Linked DNA regions of Homo sapiens. The protein of the gene in region 2 interacts with the protein of the main gene of each other region in a pairwise test. Each region holds a gene or a part of one and is shown on either strand. Other genes may lie near its edges.

What was found. The genes of interacting proteins can lie anywhere in the genome.
Region 1: the proteins of BBS4 (region 2) and BHMT interact in a two-hybrid assay, tested with the Homo sapiens proteins (one study listed by BioGRID and IntAct).

Annotation. Positions count from the first base shown.
Region 1 is NC_000005.10:79,124,291-79,129,406, forward strand, and holds part of BHMT (betaine--homocysteine S-methyltransferase 1), read left to right. Parts: intron 1-1,755; coding exon 1,756-1,938; intron 1,939-3,464; coding exon 3,465-3,693; intron 3,694-5,116.
Region 2 is NC_000015.10:72,691,995-72,697,110, forward strand, and holds part of BBS4 (BBSome complex member BBS4), read left to right. Parts: intron 1-3,182; coding exon 3,183-3,234; intron 3,235-5,116.

The sequences.
Region 1 (5,116 bases), on a different chromosome or scaffold from region 2:
ACAATCCCAGCACTTTGGGAGGCAAAGGTGTGAGGATCGCTTGAGGCCAGAAGTTCAAGACCAGCCTGGGCAACATAATGAGGCCTTGTCTCTACAAAAAAATAAAATTTTTTAAAAAGGTTAAAATGCCCAGTTTTACATGATATATATTTTACCACCATTTTTAAAATGCAAAAAAAAAAAAAGGAAAGAAAAGTCCTATTTGGGAATTCCTCCCACTTTGAGAGGAGAGAGTAAAAGAATTATAATGTCATAATGCCTTCTCAAATCTTCTGGAGGAGGAAACTTCCAAAATCATGTCTAGTGATTGCCATGGTAAATCATCTGTGGTCCAAATATAGTTAAGAACATAATGACTATAAAGAAAGTTTTTGAAGAAAATGAAATATCTAAAACATAGTTTGTTCTCACTAAATCAAACTTCACAGCACCAAATTTTACAAGAATACTGTAGGAAGACAATCCCATATAGTTGTGAGTCTGGGGAGGCTGAAATGTAAATTAAAAGCTTGTCAAAATGATTGATAGGCTAGTAACCACATTGAGTAGCTGAAGTCAAAGGATTTTTGAGATTCTTTTTCCCCAAACTATTAATCCTAGACACAAAATTCCTTCTAGCAAACACGTGTCTAAAAAACTTTTTTCTAAATTACATTCTGCTGCTGTGCCCAAGAAGGCTAATGAACTTATTAAGTTGGCCTGGTGAAAAGGAATATTTATTTACACCTCAAGCAAGCAGTATGGTAAACACAGGTGTAGTCTAGCAGCTGGGAGTGTTGAAAAATTATTGTGCTTGCAACATAATGTCCAACGTTGAAAGTTTGACTACTAAAATTTGAAGTTTAAAAAAATTCTAATAATTTTTTTTTGAAAAAAGATGGATAGGGCTGGGCATGGTGGCTCACACCTGTAATCCCAGCACTTTGTGAGGCTGAGCTGGGCGGATCACAAGGTCAGGAGATGGAGACCATCCTGGCCAACATGGTGAAACCCTGTCTCCACTAAAAACACAAAAATTAGCCTGTCGTGGTGGTGTGCGCCTATAGTCCCAGCTACTCAGGAGGCTGAGGCAGGAGAATCACTTGAACCCAGGAAGCAGAGGCTGTGGTGAGCTGAGATCGTGCCACTGCACTCCAGCCTGGGCAACAGAGCAAGAGTCTGTGTCTCAGAAAAAAAAAAAAAAAAAAAGAGATGGACAGCCAAATGTGCACAAATTACACTTCAATTATACCAGACTCTTCAAAGCACTTTCACAGAAAGCACTTCCTGCCTGCTAGTAATCATTCTCACTCAAAGGTAAGAGGTTTGTGGGGAATGAGGACCTAATGCTATGCTTCCAGTTCATCATTCCAATTAAAAGCTTCCTGCTGGGTGTGGTGGCTCATGCCTGTAATCCCAGCAGTCTGGGAAGCTGTTGGATCACTTGAGCTCAGGAGTTCGAGACCAGCCTGGGCAACATGGCGAAACCCCATATCTATAAAAAAACAAACAAACAAACAAAAATTAGCCAGACGTGGTGGCACACACTTGTAGTCACAGCAACTTGGGAGGCTGAGGTGGGAGGATTGCTTGATCACTTGAGGTGGAGACTGCAGTGAGCTGAGATCACGCTACTGCACTCCAGCCTGGGCAACAGAGTGAGATTGTGTCTCAAAAAATGAAAAAAGAACTTCCTGATTCCTGATGAAGAGAGGAGAGCTGGCCCTGCTGGTTTCTGGTGCATCCCTAAGTCTATCATGTTCTTCCCACTCACAGGAGCATCCATCATTGGTGTGAACTGCCACTTTGACCCCACCATTAGTTTAAAAACAGTGAAGCTCATGAAGGAGGGCTTGGAGGCTGCCCGACTGAAAGCTCACCTGATGAGCCAGCCCTTGGCTTACCACACTCCTGACTGCAACAAGCAGGGATTCATCGATCTCCCAGAATTCCCATTTGGTAAGACCAACATTTGATGAATCATCTCAATATCTTCATTTGATATGCATATAAACTCAAGTAAATCTATACCCAGAGATCTTTTGTCATAGTGAAGAGATGGCTTGGTGTCTCCTCATGTCTTGTCCCTGGTTTCTGTCCCTGCAGCCAAAAGCCCCTTCGTATTAGAGAAGAGCAGAAGGAAAGGATGGTCCCAGCTAGCAAAAAAGATCTCTGAATTTAAATATAAAATCTAAGGTGAATCAGCATCTAAACAGACAACTAGTGAGTCATACTTTGGGGTTGGTGAGGATGCCCTTCATGGGAGAATCAACAGATATTTAGTTCTAGTTCCAGCTCTGTTGCTAAGTCCTGTCACCTTAGGAAAATCTTTAAATTCCTCTAGCTCTCAAATTCTTTATTGGGAAAATAAGATCAGACCAGTTATCTCTAAGGTCCTTTTCTCCAATTTTTAATATGGCTCAGCTACTCCAGAGTTTTGGGATTGCAGGCAAGATACCATCATCGAGTGACTGTATAACAAGTTTTAATGAAGAGACCAAGCAGATGAAGTGAGGGGATACTTGCAGTCCAGGCAGAAGGAAAAACTTTCCCAGCATGATTGGGAAGAGCGGGTGGGTTGATCTCACAAATTAAGCCAGAGTGGTCAGCAGGGGCAGAGCATGCCCAGCCTCCTATTTCCTTCTAAGGTCTTTACACCCTATCCTATATTTTATAGGGACCCTTAGACAAGTAAGATATTATAAAATACAATCACTCTGGAGGAGCCACAGAGGAAGAAAGGCAAGGCATTTGTGTTACTTACTGCTGTATAACACATTAAATTAATGCAAAATGTAGTGGCTTGAAAAACCACTTCTTATCTCACAGTTTCTCCAGGTCAAGAATTCAGGGATAGCATAACTAGGTGGTTTTGGTTCAGGGTCTCCTAAGAGGTTGGAGTCCGGATATTTGCCAGGGCTATTATCACCTGAAGGCCTGTTGGGAGCTGGGGGATCTACTTCCTAGCTCACTTAATTGGTTTTTGGGAGTTAGTGTCAGTTTCTTGCTGTCTGTTGACTGGGGGCCTCAGTTCCTCAGCTCATGGGCCTTTTCACTGTGATGCTAGAAAACATGCTTGAAACATGTGATGCTTGCAACATGGCAGCTGGCTTTCCCCAGGGTGAGTGCTCCAAGAAAGTGCAAGGCAGAAACCATGATGTTTTGTATAGCCTAGACTCTGAAGTCACATGCCAGTTCTGCCATATTCTATGGATCTCACAGACCAGCCCTGTTATAATGCAAGAGGGGACTGCACAAGAAGAAAAACATCAAAGGGCAGGGGTCATTTGGAACCTCCTGAAGGCTGGATACCACAGCATGTAAAAGTGAACATACAACACAAAGTAGCAAAGTTTTTTCTTAAATGTAAAAATTGAATATTGAAAACAATTCATTTATTGAAAATTACATACTTGTAGCTACTTATCTTGAATTTTTATGAAAAGAATGTATAATGCCTAATGGCATAATGCCACTTATTACAGGACTGGAACCCAGAGTTGCCACCAGATGGGATATTCAAAAATACGCCAGAGAGGCCTACAACCTGGGGGTCAGGTACATTGGCGGGTGCTGTGGATTTGAGCCCTACCACATCAGGGCAATTGCAGAGGAGCTGGCCCCAGAAAGGGGCTTTTTGCCACCAGCTTCAGAAAAACATGGCAGCTGGGGAAGTGGTTTGGACATGCACACCAAACCCTGGGTTAGAGCAAGGTAAGCATCTTTTTACTAACCCAAACTAATTTAGATTATGAATATGTTCAAGTGAGGCCATTTAGAAGACTGCAGCAAATTTGTTGTGTGATGATGAAGAATCAGTCATCCCCAAATTCTCTCCCAGAGATGTTTACAAAGCATCCTTATTAGGTGATTTCTGGAGATTGTTTTAAGAATATAGAACGTATTTGACCTGATTTTGGATTTTGAAAAGAAAAAGAAAAATTTTTTTAAAAATTGTTTTTAAATATAGGCTGGGTGCGGTGGCTCGCGCCTGTAATCCCAGCACTTTGGGAGGCCAAGGTAGGAGGATTACTTGATCTCGGGAGTTTGAGACCAGCATGGGCAAGATGGCAAAACTCCATCTCTACTAAAAATACAAAAAAAAAAAAAATTAGCTGGGCATAGTGGTGCATGCCTGTAATCACAGCTACTTGGGAGGCTGAGGCACAAGAATTGCTTGAACCCGGGAGGCAGAGGTTGCAGTGAGCCAAGATCACGCCACTGCACTCCAGTTTGGGCAACAGAGTGAGACCCTGTTTTAAAAAAAAAAAAAAAAAAGAATATAGCATGTAAATAAACGTAAGTGGCAATGAAATGTGATTTTGTGCTCTAGTAAAGCACCATTAGTGTGGTGCACAATACTCTTAAATTGCATTGATTTTTAAGAGTTAAGGACCACTTAAGTATAGCTAATACTGATTGTTCTATATCAAGCATGATTTTCAGAGCTGGGAATACGGTGGCAAATAAGACAGGCAAGGTCTTTGCCCTCAGAGTTTACATTCCAATGGGGAAGATGAATAATACACTAGTAAAAAAAAATGTATGTCAGGCACTGGGAAGGGCAGTAGGAATATAGAAATGAGAAGCCGTGGATTAGAGACTCACAGTCTACTGGGTAAAAGAATACGAAAGCCAATGTATTATACTGTGGTAGCTGCTTTAGTAGATGTATGGATAGAAAAGTAACAAGAGAAGAGAATGACTATCTCTGCCTAACAGAAAGATATTTTAAAAGAAGGGTTTTGGGGCTGGATTTTGAAGGCTCAATAGGCTCCTACCATATAGAGAACTAGGAAGCGGGTGGAGGACAGGTGCTCCAAGGAGAGGTAGCAGTTCCACTCTGTTCAGCAGCTATTAACAGAGCACAGCTATCTGTCAGATGCTGTTGTGGATGCTGAGGTAGCAAGCTAAACAAGGAGCTAGCAATCTAGCAGGCAGAACGATAAGCAGGTAATGTCCAATGAGTATAGTAAGTCCAAGGATGAAGATGTGCATAGGTGTGCAGGGTCTGAGCTAATGTCCCAAGGGGCAAAAGGCAGAGAGAGGGTGAATGAAGGATTTCTAAGAAAGCTGATGCCTGAGTTGAATTCTGCGAGAGGAATTACATTGCTAGAGGAACAGCCCTCAGGAAAGC
Region 2 (5,116 bases):
CAAGACTAAGGAAAGGTAAGTGAGGTGCTTAGGGTTCACATTTTATGGAGTAAGAGTAAGTACCTTCTTAAGGTTTATACCCTAGGTTCTTCACATGCCTCACTTTAGTCCTAGCCCTGAGCATTATTATGTAGGTCTTCTGATGCAATATCTAAGAGTTTCTCTAAGGTATACCTAGAAATAGATTGCTAGGTAATGGAGTAACTTTATTACTTACAGGAAACTATATGGTGGTTGTAACAATTTATGCTTCTGCCACCAGTCATGGTGGATATGAAATTATGTCTTAATGTGATAATTTACATTGCAATTTTTTTTTTTTTTTTTTTTTTTTTTTTTGAGACAGAGTCTTGCTCTGTCACCCAGGCTGGAGTGCAGTGGCGTGATCTTGGCTCACTGCAACCTCTGCCTCCTGGGCTCAAGTGATCCTTCCACCTCAGCCTCCCGAGTAGCTGAGACCACAGGCGCAGGCCACACTTGGCTAATTTTTGTATATTCTGTAGAGGCGGGGTTTCGTCATGTTACCCAGGCTGGTCTTAAACTCCTGAACTCAAGCAATCGGCCTGCCTCAGCCTACCGAAGTGCTGGGATTAGAGGTGTGAGCCACCACACCTGGCTGTTTGTTTGTTTTGAGCCTGTTCCTCAGGCTGGAGTGCAGTGGTCCAATCATGGCTTGCTGCAACTCCGCTTCCTGGGCTTAAGAGATCCTCCCACCTCAGCCTTCTGAGTAGCTAGGACTAAGGGCACCTGCCACTATGCCTGGCTAATTTCTAAAGTTTTTTTTATAGAGGCAGAGTCTCGCTGTTTTGCCCAAGCTGTTCTCAAATTTCTAGGCTCGTGTGATCCTCCTGCCTCAGCCTCCCAAAGTGCTGGGATTATAGGTGTGAGCCACCACACCTGGCTGATCTATCTGTCTTAAACTGGAGAATTGCATTTTTTTCTACCTCCTTTCTTTTTTTTAAAAAAACTGAATTTCCATCTGTTACCCCTCCCTTTCTGCTCCTCTTATTTCATGCCTTGGAAGTTATACTTTGCCTTCCTTTAATGAGTACCAAAGAAATTAAAAAATACATGTTTACTGTAAGTCCAGGCCTAAATGTTGCTACTACAGGGACCATCAAATGCTTTACTACCATCTATTGCCATCTGCAAATGTATGCCATTGTTGTTTAGTTTTGTAGTTCTTAATGTATTTTAATTAAACACCACAAATTATGCTTTTTGTTTGTTTTATTCAGTCAGTAGATGCTTAGAATACTTGCTTATTTTACCAATTCCTTTGCTTATTCCACTCCTTTGTTCTGGGATTATTTTTCTTTTTCCTAATATATTTTCATTAAAAGTTTATTTGGTGAGAATCTAAAAACTCTCAAATTCTGAAAGTTTTAAAAATTTGCCTTTGTTGTTGAAAATTAGTTTTGATGGGTGAGAGAATCTAGATCAGGTGTTAGCAAACCTTTTTTTGTAAAGGGCCAGATAGTAAATATTGTGGGCTTTGTGGGCCATAGAGTCTCTCTGACAACTACTCAGCAATGCTGTTGTAGGACAAAAGCAACCATAGACATTATGTAAACATGAGTGTGGGTATGTTCTCACAAATTTTGTTTATAGACACTGAAATTTGACTCAATTTTCATGTGTTAAAAATTATTATTTTTTGAATTTTTTTAACCATATAAAAATGTAAAAATCATTCGTAGCTTGTAGACCAAATAAACAGGATGGATTTGACCTGTGGGCCATAGTTTGCTGACCTCTGGTCTAAATTAACATTCATTTTACTTAGTACCTGACACTGGAGTAATTATTCTTATGATGTCTTATTGTGATATTGTCTTCCATTTTTAATTGTTGAAGAGCCAGCTGTCAGTCTTTTTTGTTTTTCTTTTTCTTCTTCTTTTTTTTTTGAAATGGAGTTTTGCTCTTATCGCCCAAGCTGGAGTGCAGTGGTGTGATCTTGGCCCACTGCAACCTCTGCCTTCTGGGTTCAAGCGATTTTCCTGCCTCAGCCTCCCAAGTAGCTGGGATTACAGGTGCCTGCCACCACACCCAGCTAATTTTTGTATTTTTAGTAGAGATGGGGCTTCACCATGTTGGCCAGGCTGGTGTTGAACTCCTAACCTCAGGTGATCCACCTGCCTTGGCCTCCCAAAGTGCTGCAATTACAGGCATGAGGCACGGCGTCTGGCCTTTCTTTCCTTTTTTTTTTTTTTTGAGACGTAGTCTTGCTCTGTTGCCCAGGCCGGGGGGCGATGGTACGATCTTGGCTCATTGCAACCTCTGCTTCCCAAGTTCAAGCCATTCTCCTGCCTCAGCCTCCCAAGTAGCTGGGACTATAGGCACGTGCCACCATGCCGAGCTAATTTTTGTATATTTAGTAGAGACGGGGTTTCACCATGTTGTCCAGGCTGGTCTTGAACTCCTGACCTCAAGTGATCCTCTCGCCTTGGCCTCTCAAATAACTGTCCTTTCTTTGTTGGTAATCTGGTGATATGTTTTCTTGTTTGGCTGCTTTTAAGAGCTGCTTCTTGTCTCTGGTGCAGTTCGCTATGATGTATCTAAGTATGTATTTATTTTCATTTAACCTGGTCAGGATTTGTTGAGTATCCAGAAACTAAGGATTGGTGTTTCTCATTACATCTGGAAAAATTTGAGCCATTATTTTTGCTTATATTGTGGTATGTCATAGGAAGTTGAGAAAAGAAAAATTCATTTGATGGTTTTCTATGAGGTTATAGTGGAAAATAACTATCTCCCTTTTAGAATTGAGTGCTAGACAGTTTCTGTGTAGATGATCTCATAAGCTTCCTTTTATCAAACAGCGATCACTTTTTTGGTTTGGCTGCTGAGAAGTATGGCATCAAGTATAATACTCATATGAGGTGTTTAAGAACTGAGTATATTTCTTATGCACATTTTACTATATACTATAATTATACATTAAAAATGCACATTGTAAATATTATAAATATGTGTTATACATTGTTAATAGTTTGGATAGCAAAAGTATGACTTGACATTTGTTTTTTAAACCATATTTAAAGTAACTCTATCACAATATGGATTTAATGGATTAATTGCATAATTGGTGAGCTACTGATTATTCTTGTTATTTGGATGCTTCTTTAAGTTAGCAAGTTTATATTGTGGTGCTTCAATATAGACTACTTATTTCATTTCAGAGAACTCAATTTCCTGTATCTACTGAGTCTCAAAAACCCCGGCAGAAAAAAGGTCTGTATGCAGTTTCATGGTATGTGTATGTTTGCACAGACAGATTTCTCTTTTATTTATTTATTTATTTTTTTTTTTGGAGGCAGAGTCTCACTGTCACCCAGGCTGGAGTGCAGTAGCACAATCTTGGCTCACTGCAACCTTTGCCTCTGGGGCTCAAGCAATTCTCCTGCCTCAGCCTCCCGAGTAGCTGGGATTACAGGTGCACGCCACCACACCTGGCTAACTTTTGTGTTTTAGTAGAGATGAGGTTTCACTGTGTTTGCCAGGCTGGTCTCGAACTCCTGACCTCAGGTGATCTGCCCACCTTGGCCTCCCAAAGTGTTGGGATTACAGGCGTGAGCCGCCACGCCTGGCCAGATTTCTCTCTCTTGTTGATTCTTTTATCTATTCTATATTATTTCAAAATGAGTGTTGGGAAAAGAAGTAATAGTCTAAATGTTCTGTCACATCTAGCTTTTATTTAATAGAGTTATTAGATATTAGGAGGTTGGTTTGACCTGGAAATTATTTAAATGGGGTTTGATTATTATGTAAGTGTGTACTAATTTTCTGCTTCTGGAAAAACCACTTTGTGAAGTTCCAGGTATCTTTTTGCTTTGTTGGTTTCTAGTTTAATTCTATTGTGGGTAGAGAACATTCTTTATATGGTTTGTTTTATGGCCCACAATGTGGCCTGTGTTGGTGCATGTCCCATGTACACTTGGAAATAATGTGTATTCTGCTCTTGTAGGATGTAGCATTCTGTAAATGTCAATTAGGTCAAGTTGGTTGATAGTGTTCTGTATATACTTACAATTACAGATATTCATATTCTTACTGATGTAGTTACTGATTGGAAGGGTGATAGAAGAGTGTTGAAGTGTGCAAATGTAATTGTGGATTTGTTTCTACTTTCAGTTCTATCAATTTTTGATTTGTGTATTTTGAAGATCTGTTGTTGGATGCATATACATTTAGGATTGTCTGATTTCTTGGTAAATTGACCCGTTTGTCTTTATATAATATTCCTCTTCAATTTCTGATAATATTCCTTGTTTGAAGTCTACTTTGCCTGATAATATTTTAGTTTTAGTTATTTATTTAGCTATTTTAGTTTTGCTTTGGCCAGTCTTTGAATGGTATCAACATATAATTTTCGTAGAGTAAAATTCCCTTTTTTTAGTACAAATTCTGAGTTTCGACAAATGAAACTAGCCATGTAACCACTAGTAGCACCATAATCAAGTTATAAAAGTTTAATTACTCCCCCAAAAGTCACCTTTACTTTGTAGTAAACCACTTCTTCCATTCCCAATTGCGGGCAGCCATTAATCTGTTTCTTTCTTCCTAGTTTTGCCTTTCTTGGAATGCCAAATAAATGGAATCATACATTATTATTATTTTGAGAGAGAGGGTCTCGCTCTGTCACCCAAGCTAGAGTGCAGTGGTGTGATTATAGCTCACTGCAACCTGAAACTCCTGGGTTCAAATGGTTTTCCCCAGTAGCTGGGTCTACAGGTGCATGCCGCCATGCCTGGCTAATTTTTATGTATTTTTTTTGTAGAAATGGGGGTCTGGCTCTGTTGCCCAGGCTGGTTTTGAACTCCTGGCTTCAAGTGATACTCCATCTTCGGCCTCCTGAAGTACTGGCATTACAGGCATGAGCTATTGCACCTGGGTTATGTAAATTTTTCAGTGGCTTTTAAACCTCATATAATGTTTGTTTGTTGGTTTGTTTTTGAGGCGGAGGCTCGCTCTGTCACCCAGGCTGGAGTGCAGTGGTGCAGTCTCAGCTCACTGCAACCTCCACCTCCTGGGTTCAAGTGATTCTGCTGTCTCAGCCTCCCAAGTAGCTGGGATTATCGGCATGAACCACCATGCCTGGCTAATTTTTTTATTT